Linked DNA regions of Homo sapiens: region 1 is linked to region 2. The links come from fine-mapping of genetic effects on gene expression. Tissue or cell type: whole blood. Region 2 holds a variant in brackets; the other region holds the start of a gene. All regions are shown on one strand. Distances are from middle to middle.

What was found. PIP is the estimated chance that this variant, and not a neighbour inherited with it, causes the effect.
Region 1: it holds the start of FGD5-AS1, and the variant in region 2 is fine-mapped to the expression of FGD5-AS1 in whole blood (INTERVAL, PIP above 0.99).

The regions. Positions count from the first base shown.
Region 1 is chr3:14,944,580-14,952,683 of GRCh38, reverse strand. FGD5-AS1 (FGD5 antisense RNA 1) reads left to right here and starts at 4,243. Exons shown (of 2, transcript NR_046251.1): 1 at 4,243-4,671; 2 at 6,530-8,104. NR2C2 (nuclear receptor subfamily 2 group C member 2) reads right to left here and starts at 5,101. Exons shown (of 14, transcript NM_001291694.2): 1 at 4,778-5,101. RefSeq lists enhancers at 3,197-3,884, 4,239-4,438, 3,885-4,572, 5,261-5,950 and silencers at 4,039-4,098, 4,489-4,908, 4,929-4,998, 5,049-5,478.
Region 2 is chr3:15,063,501-15,071,604 of GRCh38, reverse strand. MRPS25 (mitochondrial ribosomal protein S25) reads left to right here and starts at 6,290. Exons shown (of 4, transcript NM_022497.5): 1 at 6,290-6,544. The coding sequence starts at 6,411. It overlaps RBSN (rabenosyn, RAB effector), which reads left to right. Exons shown (of 14, transcript NM_022340.4): 14 at 1-1,532. RefSeq lists an enhancer at 6,131-6,310. The variant C/T (reference allele first, on the strand shown) is at 4,217.

The DNA.
Region 1 (8,104 bases), 120 kb after region 2:
TTACAATGTGTAACAGGAGCACAAATGTATCCATTAAGTTAAAGATGATGATCACACAGGGAAGAAAAAAGGCATCATTTAAGGCCCTCATAATTAGCAATAAAGTAAAAAGAGGTAAACGAAAATCTAGCAGGGGATCCTTACATCAAGGCTGGACTTGGGGTCTAGACCACTTCCAATTCTGAGATTCTAAGATTCCTTCACGGACTCCCCCCGTGTGGTATTTTTTAAGATGATACTTGTACAGGAGATGGTTTGGGACTAAAGGAGCGTATGGCTTATAGGTAAGAGAACTCAACAATAAAAATCCCAACGGAGGGCCCTCGATATGTGGAGACACTCAGGCAGCTAGACACAGACCAGTGGCTCAGTGCCACGGCTGAAGACAGGGCTGCTCCACAAAGACTCACCTCCCTTGTTCTCAAAGTCATTCAGACAACAAGTATCCGCTATCCCTGGCCCCAATCTCAATGCTGGCTCCCACCTCCCTGTTTGACAAATGGGGAATTATAAGCCTCAGAGAGGCTACCAACTCCAGGTTCTGAAGCCAGGCCTTTCTGCCTTCATAGCCCAAGCTCTGTCACTGCACTGCCCTTGCCATGTTACTCCTTGGAGACAGATGCTAAAAACTTCCCAGTTGCTGGGCGCAGTGGCTCACACCTGTAATCCCAGCACTTTGGGAGGCCGAGGCAGGCGGATCACGAGGTCAGGAGTTTGAGACCATCCTGGCTAACATGGTGAAACACCGTCTCTACTAAAAATCCAAAAATTAGCCAGGCGTGGTGGCGGGCACCTGTAGTCCCAGCCACTGGGGAGGCGGAGGCAGAAGAATGGCGTGAACCCAGGAGGCAGAGCTTGCAGTGAGCCGAGATCGCACCACTGCACTCCAGCCTGGGTGACAGAGCGAGACTCCCAAAAACAAAAAAAAACACACAAAAAAAACTTCCAGCCATCCTCATAAAGTGAGGAGGTTGTTACGCACAGGGATTTTCTATAAAAGAATGATCACGAAACAAAACTTAAAAGTCACTGTGAATACAACTACTGAAAGCAATAAATAACTTAACGATGTAAGACAACATATAGCTGTTTTACTAAACTAGCAGTTCTTTGGTTACCCTGAGTAATTAGCTTAAGGAATTGAACAAGTGATACCAAAAATCTTTGAGCAAGACAGAAAAAAAAACCCAAAAATAAACAGTTAAACTATTATTATTTTTAAAATACCATAACAATATCTTATTTTAAAAGTTTTACAATATAAAATAAGTTAATACAAATGTTTTATTTACCACACTTTCGAGTAGAAACTTGATGTATACTTAACAAAATTTGCTTTTAACCTTGGTAAAGCAATTAAAAGGTGATTTTCAATAATTTCATTAAATGAATCAATTTATCTTTAGAAAGATAAATATCCCGAATTAATGGCTACAGAGACTTTCAACTCCCAATTCCCTGTGAACCCACTGGAGGCTTGTTCCTTCTCTCCAATCCCCTGTGATGGTGAGACAAAAATCAGAATATTTGATTTCAAGAAAATCATGGTAGCTTAGTGCTTCGTTTCTTCAGCTAAAGTAAATAACATAAGTTATGTTTGGGCTATTTATTTCTTCACATATGAACTTATTAACTTTCATGCACTTAAACTTGTAATTCAATCATAAAAAAATGAGTGGGAAAAACTATTGAAATGGGTCATTTTATCCATATTTATGTCTCCAGAAAGTGGCATATCTGTCAGAAATCACTTGCTAAATTCAACCAAATACCGTAACAGGCTTATTATTGCTGGCAGTGCTATCTGAATTGCCAAAGAGGCTCACACAAAAGGTATCCATCAATGTACAGCAACTTAGTTATCAGTGACATCATAAATTATCAACAATTCATTCAACAAATAGTGCCAGGCACTCTTCTAAGTGCTGGATAAGTAATGGTAAACAAAATGTATTCCTGCTCTCACAGCTTACAGTGTGGTAAGGACAGACATTAATCAAATAATCACATAATAGAGTGTGTAATTATAAAGTGAGATAAAGATTATAAAGAAAAGAATAAAAAGAATCTGATTTAGACTGGCAATGGGAATTAGGACTTCCCTGAAGAAGTGATGCTTGAGCCAATATCTGAGGTAGGGTGGGGGTGGGGGGTAAGCTTACACTGTAAGCTACACTGGTCAAGGAAGTTGAAGGTAGGCCAGTGTGTCTAGAGCACAGGAAGCTAGGGGTACCACAGATAAGAAAATAATGAAAAGCCTTGGAAAGGTTTTTAAACATGGAACAGGAAGCCTCTGCCATTACGTGGGTTCTAGTGGCGCCTGAACAACATACTGCCTGTAAGAGAGTTCTGTAAATCATAAAGCACCCTATACTTTGGTTAGTACTATTTAGTTCCATTATTTTGTTTTCCAAACTTTTGTCCTGGATGCCATGTAACTAGCTGCAAGCACAGAGCCAAAACTAGAATCTCGGTGTTCGAATCTATTGTTTTTGCCCCTACACCACACTGCATAAAAATTTCATTATTTATATCACTTAATTAGTCCAATGTCTATACCAGTAGTTCATAATGACAACAATAACTCTATTTACACAGTATTTGCTACATGTCAGGCACTTTTCTAAGCTCTATTATTTACATTAACTCATCTAATCTTCAGTTCAGGAAGGAAGGCTCTATTATTGTCCAGATGAGGACAGTGAGGCTAGGAAAGGTAGCTTACACAAAATCACACTGCTAGTAAAAGTTGGGGAGTTGCTAACCACAACACTAAAACATTTTATGTCTGTGTATGTATGTGTATAAATATCTCTATCTCGAGAGAGAGAAAGAGAGAACTCACACACAGAGAATTATATTCAACTCCAGCCTGGGCGACAGAGTGAGACCTTGGTCTCAAAAAATAAATAAATAAATAAATAAATCATATTCACATGTTTGAGGACCAGTGTCTTACTTTTTTGTATTCCCAGCCTAGCACATAGTGCCTGGAGTATTCGTAGCACTCAGGAAATACTTGATGAACTGAAAATGTATATAAGAGGCTGACGAAGGATTTGAATCTGGAAGTAAAGTGAGTTTCTGAGGCCCTCCTCCCAAGTCATGTATTCATCAGTAATTCATATGAAGGCTGTATTTTCCTCGACTTTCTTATTACATTGAAGATTTGTTCCTCACTACCGTTGCTATATTTCACAGCCTTTGGCTTGGAAACAAAGTGGGATAATGGACAATTACTAGTTCCAACCAACTCTCCAGCCACAAGCAGCCAGTTCTCGATCACATCAAATGCTCTTCCTCCAGGGCCGTTACACGGGATGTCCTGTCTGGAATGCCATTCCTCCCTTGGGTTCCTCTGTTCAAACATCACTTACTCAGAGAGGCCACCCTGACCATTCCATCTAAATTAACGCCTCAGGTCTTCTTCAGCAGGTCATTTGGCTTCTTTTCTTTCACAGAACTTATGACTCTCTGGAATTATTTGTCTATTCACCCCCCAGCCCCCAACTCTAGTGAGGGCAGGGGTCTTGTACAGCTGGTTCTCCAGATGTGTCCCCAGTGCCTAAAAAACTAAGTCAACATGTATTCAGCGAACGAATGAGAAGAGAATCACTCCCGAATTGTGCTCTCTCAAACCCCAAATACCCTTAACGCTTGCCTCTCCTGGTGGCTGTAATCCCATTTTTAACAATAACACCATTTTCAAGTGACTCTGAAGCTCGCAAAGTAGCGTTGCCTCCATTTTCTGAGTAGAGCCCCACAAACAATGCTCAGAAGGGAGGTCCGGCCTGGCAAGAATGCGCATGCCCCCCATTTACAGTCGATAAAATTGAGCCTCATTAGGGGATTCGCCAAGGCCGCTGCGAAATAACGAGCAGGAGCCCTGAAAAGTGTCCTGGTTCCGAAAACCTCTTCCCACGAGAGCGCATCGTGGACTCGAAATGCTTCATCACCTTTATTACTATTGTTCCTCAGTACTCATTCGAGACGCGTTCCAGGCGGAGGGAAGCAGCCCACCTGCTGACCCAAGACCAGGCGCCGGCCTCTCCACCCGGCCGCGCCCCTCGCGCCCCGCCCCCGGCCCCGCCCCCGCCGACCCGGCCCCACTCTTCGCCCCGGCCTCTACTCCCGCCCCGCCAGGGCTCCCGCGCCCCATAAGGACCACCCTCTTCCGCCTCAGCCAATCAGCAAAGCTTAGGGGGGCGGTGCCACAGGCCCCGGCCCTCCTATCTGGGCGCCAATTAGCCAGCCCATCCGTCGCTCACGAGGTCGCGCCTCGCACCCGCCTTCCTCCTTTTCTTTTACCCTCCCCTTCAGAAAAAACGGCGGTTGGGCTGCGACGGCCGCCAAAGGCGGACTAGAAGCGGAGGGGTGAAAATCCCGGCAGAGAAGGAAGAAGGGACTGCAGGCGGGAGGAGGAGGAGGATAAGGAGGAAGGGAGCCCGCCCAGCCGGAGCCATCTCCGTCGAGAACAAAATGGCGGCGCTGGCGGAGGGCCAACTATAAGGCGGGGCCGCGGCCATTCCCCCTCCACCCCCACCCTTGCGCCGGCCGGGCCGGTCAGGGGGAACCCGCTCGCTTCGCCCGGCCGCGGGCGGGGAGGGGAGGGGAGCGGCCCGGCCCACTATGCAAAGCGCCGGGCGCCGCCGCCGCCACCCCGTGGCAAAGGTAAAAGGGTCGGGTTCAGCCGCCGCCGCGGCGCCTCCATGTCCGCGCGCCAGGCCCGCCCCCTCCGCCGCCGGCCCGAGCCCGCCCGACCCTCTTTCAATTTTACCTCAGGATTTGGCGCCAAAGCGGCCTCGAAGCGGGTCCCGTGTCTGCGGCGGGCGGCCCCCGGCGCGGAGGGCAGGGCGCGGGGAGCCCGGGCTCCCGGTGTCGGCGGATGGCGGGAGCCCGGGGGCCGCGGGCTCGCGGGGCAGCGGGCGAGAGACGAGACGCCGAGGTGGGAGCGGGGTGGCGGGGACGGGCCCGGGGGCGCCGCCGGGGTCGCGGAGAAGGGGGGGTTTGTTATTGTTTTTGTCAGTGAAAGGTCAGAGTTCGTGACCCCGGTGCCGCCGCCGCCGCCGCCCGCGCGCTGGTAGGAGGAGGGCGAATGTTCTTCTTCCTCTTCCCAGCGCCAGCCTCGCCGCCGCGGCGGGGGGCGGGCGAGAACGCGATTGGCTGAGGCGCGCGCGCGCACCGGAACGCCGCAGCCGGCGCTCGGTCCATCCGGCCCGTGGGCTGTGGGGCCCCGGGCGGCGGCGGCTACGTAGCTGCCGCCGGCCTTGGCCGCGGCCGGGCGGGCGGATATGTGGCTTAAATGGCGCAGGCGTCGGGGCCTAGAGGCTGAAGGGCTGGTCGTCCTAAAAACTCGTGGACGTCGCGCACGGTTACCCGGACGCAGGCCCGCCCCTCTGGGGAACCGCGAGCTCCTCGCAGCTGGGTGGGGACCGTCCTCGCAGTGGCGGCCTCCACCCTGCCTTCTCGCTTAGCCAAGGCTTCTGGAAGGCTCGCAAAGTGTCTGTTGTTGGAAGAAGCCGGGCCCTGACTGGCGCGACGGATTCTCCCAGCCGCTCAGCAGAGCGTCTGTAGGTCGGAAGTGGGGGTTGTATTGGGTGGGTATTGAGCTCTTCGGCCCTTCCTCGGTACTGATAGTTTTTAATTTAGGTTTTAAAGGTCTAAAGATGCGCCCGTTCTGGCCATCTCAGGTGAAATGTTGAAACGCCCCAGAACCTATAATTTTTGGTTTCTTAGTAAACATACGATCCAGATCTTGTGTAATTCCATGCCCCTCCTCCTCGAAATTTGGAAGTAGTACATGGTAATAGGGATGTGTAAAGCAGCTTTTAGCAGCATTGCTTAAATTTATTTGAAGAAATTGGCCTGTCTTGCTCTTAAACTCTTGGGCTGTAGGTTTTCCTTACATATTTCTCTGTTTTATGTCGTGGTTTTGACTTGCCTGGGAAGGTGCAGGCGCTTATTTATCCTAAATGCCCTGAAGTGTTTAGGCTACAGGCTGTAGATCTTATACTGATTTTTTTTCTTCAGTTTTCTTGCTTATTAAGAATAAATATTGACTCCAGAATGGATGGGTTAACTTTTTTTCCCACACAGTATCCATTTGGGTTTTTATCAGGATGACTCCAACATTTAGTATTTTTTTTTCCATAATCTTATAATATTTCTATTTGGTAAAAAATGTTTTAAACACAGCTATTTCCCCTTCCTCCTTTTTCTGACGTTGCAAAATTGGGAAAAGAGCTAGGTTCGTTTTGTCATGGTAAAGCACAGCTCTTGAAATTGGAAGAGGCCTTAAGGGAATGTGGTCAAATTTTTTTCTTGCAGAAAGATTTTCCGATTTTAGGGGTGAAGTGGGTGAGAACTAGAAAGGTCAAGTGATGTACCTGAGAGGCAAAAGCAATTGCGTTTTTGCATTTTTGAAATTTGCTGTTTGATATTGGAATACATTCTTAAATAAATGTGGATCATTTTAATGCACATTTCTCACTTTATTTTTTTGCTAATGACTTATTGCTGTTTATTTTAGAATATGCTTTTTGTCTAATGATGTTAGATAAAAAGCAAATTTGGAGCAGTTTTCTTATTCGAGTTCAAAATGGTTCATAAAGCAGCGAAGACAACTCAAAACATCAGTAACACATTTGGCCCAGGAACTGCTAACAAACATACAGTGCAGTGGTGGCTTAAGAAGTTTTGCAAGGAAGAGAGCCTTGAAGATGAGGAACGTGATATGGGCCATGGGAAGTTGACAACGACCAATTGAGAGCAATCATTGAACTACATGAAAAATTACAGAAGAACTCAGCGTTGACTATTCTACGGTCATTAGGGTCGTTCAGCATTCGAAGCAAATTGGAAAGGTGAAAAAGCTTGATAAGTGGGTGCCTCATGAGCTGAGCGGAAATCAAAACTATCGTTTTGAAGTGTAGTCTTCTTTTATGCTACGCAACAACAAACCATTTCTCAATCGGATTGTGACATGTAATGAAAAGTGAATTTTATACAACAACCAGCTCAGTGGTTGGACCAAGAGGCAGCTCCAAAGCAGTTCCCAAAGCCAAACTTGCACCAAAAAAAAGGTCATGGTCACTGTTCGGTGGTCTGCTGCCCATCTGATCCACTACAGTTTTCTGAATCCTGGTGAAACCATTACATCTGAGAAGTATGCTCAGCAAATTGGTAAGATGCACCGAAAACTGCAATACCTGCTGCCTGCATTGGTCAACAGAAAGGGCCCAATTCTTCTCCACGACAACACCTGACTGCGTGTCGCACAACCAGTGCTTCAAAAGTTGAAGGAATTGGGCTACAAAGTTTTGCCTCATCCACCATATTCACCTGACCTTTCGCCAACTGACTACCACTTCTGCTAGCATCTTGACAACTTTTTGCAGGGAAAACACTTCAGCATGGTGCAGAAAATGCTTTCCAAGAGTTCGTCAAATCCTGAAGCACGGATTTTTATGCTACAGGAATAAACAAACATTTCTCATTGGCAAAAATGTGTTGATTGTAATGGTTCCTGTTTTGATTAATAGAATATGTTTTAGCGTAGTTACAATGATTTAAAATTCGCAGTCTGGAAATTTAATTTTTGCATCAACCTAATATTTCTATGGTAAATCCTTGCAAACATGGAAACAATGCATTTGGCCCAGTGCTTTGTGGTTGTGTACTCTTTTTCTTTGTTTTTTTAATAGATGGCATTGGCCGGGCATGGTGGCTCATGCCTGTAATCCCAGCATTTTGGGAAGGTGAGGTGGGTGGATCACCTGAGGTCAGGAGTTCAAGACCAGCCTGACTAACATGGTAAAACCCCATCTCTACTAAAAATACAAAAAAATTAGCTAGGCGGGGTGGCGGGCATCTAATTCCAGCTACTTCATGAGGCTGCGACAGGAGAATCATTTGAACTCGGGAGGCAGAGGTTGCAGTGAGCCGAGATCACACCATTGCACTCCAGCCTGGGCGATGAGCGAAACTGTCTCAAAAAAAAAAAAAGTTGGGGTCTCGCTGTGTTGACCAGGCTGGTCTCGAACTCCTGGCCTCAAGTGATCCTCCCATCTTGGCCTCCCAAAGTGTTAGGATTACAGGCGTGAGC
Region 2 (8,104 bases):
AGAAGTGTGTGAAGGACGCTTTGCATTTGGGATCTGTTCACAAACAGCCATATGAGTGTGTTAATGAATGTCAGCCAGTTACCAACCCTGCTGGTTGTTATGGGTTGTTTTGAGAAGTTGGCAACCAGGCATCTAAGATGTTGCCTGGTACAGGCCTCTTTTCTTCCCTGAGGCCCATGACATTTCTCTGTTACTCTAGAGGGTTTCTCAGATGGCCAGTAGGCTCCTCCCTGCTTAGGGTCTCATTTCTCTGAAAAGAGGATGAACTGAAAAGCAGGTAGTTCCAGAAGCTAATTGCTGCTTTCCATCATAATTATTTTTCTTGTGAGAACATTTCTCTTTTAATTAGCTAGTGATTTTGATTAAGACTAATTCACTAAACATACCCTTCCCTCAAATCACCTCAGGTAGCAATCTGTAAGTAACTAAAAGCATTGAAAAACACACAAGAAACATTTTTAAAAACTATTTTTAAAGGCCTGGCCGGGTGCAGTGGCTCACTCCTGTAATCCCAGCACTTTGGGAGGCCGAGACGGGTGGATCACCTGAGGTCAGGAATTTGAGACTAGCATGGCCAACATGGTGAAACCCCGTGTCTACTAAAAATACAAAAATTAGCTGGGCGTGGTGGCAGACGCCTGTAATCCCAGCTACTCAGGGAGGCTGAGGCACGAGAATCGCTTGAACCTGGGAGGCGGAGGTTGCAGTGAGCCAAGATTGCGCCACTGCACTCCAACCTGGGTGACAAGAGCAAGACTCCGTCTCACAAAAAACAAACAAAACTGACTGATTGAATATACTAAACCAAACTAAAATCATATTCTTTTGATTAAGTTTATCCATGGCTGTATTCTTCTATGAATTCTTCCATTTAATTCTTCCACGATTATCTTCTCCTGTAAATACATCACAGGAGTTAGAATTCTCTACCCATCAGCTGTACCATGTCGCAGAATTCATGCAGGCACAAAGTTGGAGTTACAGAGATGGGTTGACAGCAGGCAAACTTGGCCTATGTATTATAACCACAACTTCAAGTTCTTACCTCATGTGAATATTCACCCTTTCTTTAGTCTTCCAAGGCAAACAGCCCCGTCTCATCACCAGATGAGCAAGGTCTTGATATGGCATAGCAGATCTCCCTAGACACAGATCATGAGAAAAGATGGAAGAGACTTAGGGATTCAGGCATCAGATGAAGTTGGCTTTTCCCTTTTATGCCTTGTTTGTATTTACCCTGTCTAATACACTAAGGATACTTACTCATTGTACTTGCAGCTCAATATGTCTTTGCTGTTCAGATACTAAAATGTACCTCTGAGTCATTGTGAGCTGTGTGGTAGGTTGGACATTGGCATAGTTGGTGATGGGACTCAAAATGAAAAGGTGGTCTCTTTACCAGGTCACAGACTGTAGCAGATTGTGCTTGTTATCTGACAATGACTGTCACTTTGAGGGTCGTTGATTTGCATGCACTACTCTGGGGCCTTGTATTGGAGCCTTTTTTAAAAAAAATAAAATCTGAGATAGAGGTTGGGGGTGTGTGTGTCTGTGTGCACATGTGTTACAAGTGAGAATCATCAGATGACATCCCTTCTCCTTTCTTGATGACAACCATCTGAGTATCAGAATAGTTCCAGCACCTGTGTTGTTTGTCTGGTTAAGGCCTCTGGAAAAAATGAAGGTCACTGGGTTCTGAACAGGGGATAGATACGGGTTCCAGTTCTGCCCTTATTCCCAGTTATTCCTGCAGTGCTGGTTAAATGAACAGTTTTACAGAAGTATAGTGCAGATCCCTTAATGATCCTATCATCCCAGTTTCACACTGGAAGAAACTGAGGCTCAGAGATTGAGGAACCTTGTGACTGCCATCTGTGCCAGTCACCACCTCTGCATGACCACATTTCCCTCCATTAGCACTACCAGCATGCCTGTGAGGTAGTTACTCAGCTGTTCATCTGACCCCAGACGTAGAAAAGTTAAGAGAGATTAGCCTGGCTTAGGCCACACAGCCAGTCAGTGGTGGAATGAGGGTTTAAATCCAGATCTGCCTGACTTAATTTGCCCTCAGTAATAAGTAGCTGGGTCAGGTAGTGGTGTGGTGGTGGTGGGTGCTCAACCATTGTGTCAAGCTCAAAGAGGGCAGAAAAGGGCAATGGGGAATGAGGTTGGGTGCTGCTGAGCTGGTTTCCGATAGTGACTGCCTGAGTCTGTGAAACTGAGACCTCCTTAGGGCCTTAAGAATATATAGATTCTTAAACCAGGAGAGTATAATATCTAGTGCTCACTGTAGGCTAGACTGAGTGCTAAGTATTACGCATGGCTTACCTCAGTCTTCCCAACAACCCATTTACACATGCAGAAATGAGTGAGTGGTGAAGTTAAGCTTGCTTAGGGTTGCACTGCTGGGTTTCCAGCCTAGGTCTGTCTGACTGCAAAACCCAAGCTGCCCTAGATTGTGTTGTATGTGGACACCCATGTTTCTAATGTGGAATGGGGTGTTTCATCCCTAGCAAGTGCCTCCTGTGGACTTTTAAGATGAAAAACTTCTGCCTAACTCTTCAGGAAGCCTAGCGTAGTTGTAAAAATACTTCAGAAAGCACTTCTGGTTTTAGCTCAGACACGTAGAGTTTGAAAGTTATCCTATCCTTACCACAAGAAAAAGCTGGGCAAACTCAAAAGCATTGGCCTTTCTTGGTCCCATTAGAGAGCTGAGTGTGCAGGTCAAACTGCCATCCCAAAATCTAGAGAGAGGTGAGTCCAGAGAGTGAGCAAGATCTAATTGCCTGGAGCAGAAGCCACGGGAGCCATAGCTAGTAGGAAAACTTAAATGGTAATTTTGATGAACTGCTGGAGGTTGAGTGTGGACTAGCATGGGAGGGAGCAACTCCCCCTCACCCCCAACGCTTTCCTGGGTTTTACCCTACTTGGTTCTATTGGTGAAGAGCTGAGGAAGACCCTCTGGTGACTCTGGCAGGGGAAAGGGAGAATCATCTTTGTAATCAGAGCCTTCTCCATAATAAAGCTTATTCCCCAGAGGAAAGCACTTTTTCACAGAGCCTTATCCATCTGGAGGAGGGCTGGGTCATGTAAGGGGGTACAAAGGGGAACTAAGAAACACTTGTGGGCCAGTGCGGTGGCTCACGCCTGTAATTCCAGCACTTTGGGAGGCCAAGGTGGGCAGATTGCTTGAGCCCGGGAGTTCAAGACCAGTCTGGGCAATATAGCAAAACCTCATCTTTACAAAAAATACAAAAATTAACCAGGCATTGTGGCACATGCCATAGTCCAAGCTACTCGGGGCTGAGGTGGGAGAATTGCTTGAGCCTGGGAAGTAGAGGCTGCAGTGAGCTGTGATTGCGCCACTGTACTGCGCTCTAGCCTGGGTGATAGAGCAAGACACTGCCTCAAAAAAAAAAAAAAAAAAGAAAAAGAAAAAAAAAGGAAAGAACACTTGTGTAGGTCACAGCCCAAGGACACAAGCCCACTAAAATGCTGAGATTTAATCGTAAGATTATAGAATGCTTCACCTCCCCCATGTTTTTCCACCACATCAACAGGACTCCAGGATAGTAACAGTGAATTATACCTGGAAGAGCTGCAAGACACGGACTCTCTCAGGAGGAATATCGAGGGAAGCCCAAAGGCAAGAGGAGATAAACACAAAGACACTAGAGGAACTGGAAGCCTCTGACACCTACAGCTATGGCAAACATTAAACACAGCTCTCAACTCTGAGCCAGATTAACATAAGTTCTCATTCTAGAGGCTTATTTACCCCAGTTCCTATGGCCCAATAGAGTGGATATTCTACCTTCAACAAAAAAATTATAAGCATGCTAAAAGGCAAGGAAAAAAATAAACCCAACAATCAGATGAAACAAAGCAAACATCAGAATCACACTCAGATATTGGAATTATCAGACAAGAAATTTAAAATGTGGTCTGTTAAGGGGTCTAATGGTAAAAGTAAACAACATACAAGAACAGATGGGTAATGTAAACAGACATAAGAAAACTAAGAATCATGCGAGGTGTGGTGGTTCACACTTGTAATCCCAGCAGTTTGGGAGGCTGAGGCAGGCAGATCACTTGAGGTCAGGAGTTTGAGACCAGCCAGGCCAACAAGGTGAAACCCCATCTCTACTAAAAATACAAAAATTAGACTGGGCACAGTGGCTCATGACTGTAATCACAGCACTTTGGGAGGCCAATG[C/T]GGGTGGATCACGAGGTCAGGAGTTCAAGACCAGCCTGGCCAACATGGTGAAACCCTGTCTCTACTAAAAATACAAAAACTAGCTGGGTGTGGTGGTGGGCACCTGTAATCTCAGCCACTTGGGAGGCTGAGGCAGGAGAATCATTTGAACCTGGGAGGCAGAGGTTGCAGTGAGCCAAGATAGTGCCATTGCACTCCAGCCTGGGTGACAGAGCGAGACTTCGTCTCAAAAAAAAAAAAAAAAAAAATTAGCCAGGCATGGTGGTGTGCACCTGTAGTCCCAGCTAAGTGGCAGAGGTGGGAGAATTGCTTGAGCCCAGGAGGTAGAGGTTGCAGTGAGCAGAGATTGCACCAGTGCACTCCAGGCTGGGTGACAGAGACTTTGTCTCAAAACAAACAAACAAACACCCTAAGAATCAAAAGGAAGTGCTAGAAGTTAAAACCTTAAATGAAAAATGCCTTAATGGGCTTATCAGTAGACTGTCCATAACCAAAGATTAAATGAATTTGAAGATAGGTCAACAGAAACTTCCCCACTAAAATGCAAAGAGAACCTCCATCACCCCGCCAGAACATTCGAGAACTATGAGGCAATTCCAGAAGACATAAAATGCATTTAACTTGAATACTAGAAAGAGAAAAGAGTGAAGAATAAATACCTGAACTAATAAATGGCTAAGAACTTTACAAAATTAATGACAGACATGAAATCACAGATCCAGGAGGCTCAGAGGACTCCAAGCAGGACAAATACAAAACATCTACAGATCTGCATTACCTTATTCTAACCCCGTAAACCAAACACCAAGAGAAAATTTGAAAGAAGCTAAAGGAAAAAGCCATCATACCTATAAATGTAATTGCATTTAATTACTTGTTTGAAACCATGCAAGCAAAAAAAGAGTGGAGTGAACTATTTAAATTGTTGAAAGAAAAACACCAGGGCCAGGCGCAGTGGCTCACGCCTGTAATCCCAGCACTTTGGGAAGCTGAGACGGGCGGATCATCTGAGGTCAGGAGTTTGATACCAGCCTGACCAACATGGAGAATCCCCGTCTCTACTGACAATACAAAATTAGCTGGGTGTAGTGGCGCATGCCTGTAAGTCCGGCTACTCGGGAGGCTGAGGCAGGAGAATCACTTGAACCTGGGAGGCGGAGGTTGCGGTGAGCCAAGATAGCACCATTGCACTCCAGAAGGGAGGGAGGGAAAGGAAAAACACTAACCTAGAATTCTAAATCTGGCAAAATCACTCTTCAAAAGAGAAGGAGAAATACCTTTCAGATCAAGAGTACTTCAGAAATGTATCTTTTTTTTTTTTGAGAGGGAGTCTTGCTCTGTCGCCCAGGCTGGAGTGCAGTGGCGCGATCTCGGCTCACTGCAACTTCCCGGGTTCGAGCGATCCTCCCACCTCAGTCTTCTGAGTAGCTGGGACCACAGGTGCTGCCACCACACCAGGCTAATTTTTGTATTTTCAGTAGAGACGGGGTTTCGCCATGTTGGGCAGGCTGGTCTCGAATTCCTGACCTCAAGCGATCCTTCCGCCTCGGCTTCCCCAAAGGCTGGGTTTACAGGCGGGAGCCACCGCGCCTGGCCCTAGAAATACATCTCACCCATAGTTTGTTTACGAAAAAATTGAGGTCCTGAGTTAAGTGGCTGAATTTAGGAAGGAATTGATCCCAAACCATCTTTTTTTCTTTTGCTAAGAAGTTTAAGTCAACGTCAGAAAGTGCAGTTTGAACTCTTCATGATAAAACTGGAGATGTTTGGGGAGAAAAATGGACAATACGTTCAATAGGACGTTATCAGCTGACTTGGTATCCAAACTGAGCTTTCCTGATTATTTCTTATTGCAATGTCTGACTTTTAGCCTATGTAAAAATATTTTCCCGTGGGTGGATGGGGAAATGACTAATTTACAGGACGCGACAACCTAAACCTTCCAAGGGGAAGGCGTCCTAAAGCGAAGCTGCACACACCGGTTCTCGCCGCGCCGGGTCGAAGGCCGCCTACAAGTCCCAGAGTGCTCCGCGGCGTGCGCTGCCCGCCGGGAAGCGTCTCCTGTGCGTCTGCGCGGGAAGTGGAACCTGGCTCTGGGGAGAAGCCGCGTGAGATCCGCGCGGGTGCTAGCTAGTCCTTTCTCGTCGCTGCTCGGCTCGCGGCCCGTGGGGTCGGCCCCGCCACCGTTGCCGCCATGCCCATGAAGGGCCGCTTCCCCATCCGCCGCACCCTGCAATATCTGAGCCAGGGGAACGTGGTGTTCAAGGACTCCGTGAAGGTCATGACAGTGAATTACAACACGCATGGGGAGCTGGGCGAGGGCGCCAGGTCAGTCGCAGCCCCGGCCGCCTGGCGAGCCGTAACCTGCTAGTCGTGCCAGCCTGCTGGTAACGTGAGGTCCCGAGTCGCTCTGGGCGGCCGTTCATCCCCGGGGCGGGCCCCCCAGGTCGGCGCTGTTACCCCCATTTTACAGAGGTCCAGACTGAGGCGGACGGCGGGGCCCCCGCCGGGCCGGCTGCAGTCGTGACGAGGTTTGGGGGGCGGAGGACAAGAACCCCACTCCTGGATCTCCTTCCTCCGGCGCGGTGGGCGAGGCTGACCCGAGGGAGGCCACCAGTTCCCTTGGCCCCTCTGGCCAGCAAGGCAAGCGCTGGGGAGGGGCAGCCGCAGATCCTTTCGGGGTGACGGGGGTGACACCCCAGGACGAATCTGAGGATAAAATGAGAGAAATAACAGCGGCGAACACTGATCATATCTCGCACAGTTCTGAATGCTTCTCGCGCTTTCTTTTTTCTGATGCCTAGAGAAACCCCAGCTTATCCCCACTCTAAGGCTGGGGAAGCGCACAGAGAGGTTAAGTAACTTGCAGCTCCACGAGACACCATGCCAGCCGGTGAGCGGTGAGCCGGGCAGTGTGGCCGCTTCCTTCGGGACTCAAGGTTTGGAAGGAAGTGATTAATTATGTCAGCTGTGCAGCGGCAGACCCTACCCCGACTAGAAGGAACTGTAGGGAACGCCTAGGATGTCTTTCAGCTTGGAGCAGAGTAGGGACTCATTGAATGGCAGTTGGCAAGTGAAAGGTTTGGATTGACCCTGAGGCAGCCCTAAGCAGTGCCTTAGGCTCTGCAGGTATGAAGTCTACATTTATTGAGTACACTCTGAGTGCTAGGCTGTGTGCTGTGTGCTGGGAGTTCAGCAGTGATGGAGGAGGCAGCCTTAGCCCGCAGAAACTTTGGGACTTGGGTGTATGTTGGATCAAAATGAGGCGTGGGGGCGGGGAGCAACTTCTTGTGGGGCATGGTCCCCTTGGTGACGGACCTTCACTGCATGGCCCTTCAAGAGATCCGGAAGCCGCTTCCTAGCCATTTGCTCTGCGCAGGTGAATCTGATAACTTGGACCTGCTTGCCTGGAATCAGCTGGCTTGATGGCTTCCTGGAAGACTTGGTCTTGGTCTTAGGGTGTATGGGCACCCAGATACTCCTTCATAACCTACTGCACAACTGTGCACACCTTTGTCCCCGGGCAACTGCCAGGCAGATAATGGGAAGGGGTGGGGGTCTCGGTGCGGCCCGCAGCGAGCTGGAGAGCACATGCCCTATCCAGAGGGCCCTTCACTGTTTGGCATTGTGGGCTCCGTGGAGAATTTCTCATTTGTCAAGAAGCTGAAATCTAGGTTTTTATGTAAATCTCTGGCTTTTAAATGGCCAGCCAATCAAAATAAGCCTGTGAGCCTCTTACTTACATTCTCAGATATTTTAATGTCCTCTAGGTAAATGGGATACAAACAGCCATTCACTGTTTCTTTGTTCCTGGTGGTAGGGGCTGGCCTGTGCCACCTGTGCCCTCTGTGATCTTGTACCCGTGGGTTGGAGTCTGTCTGCCTTGCT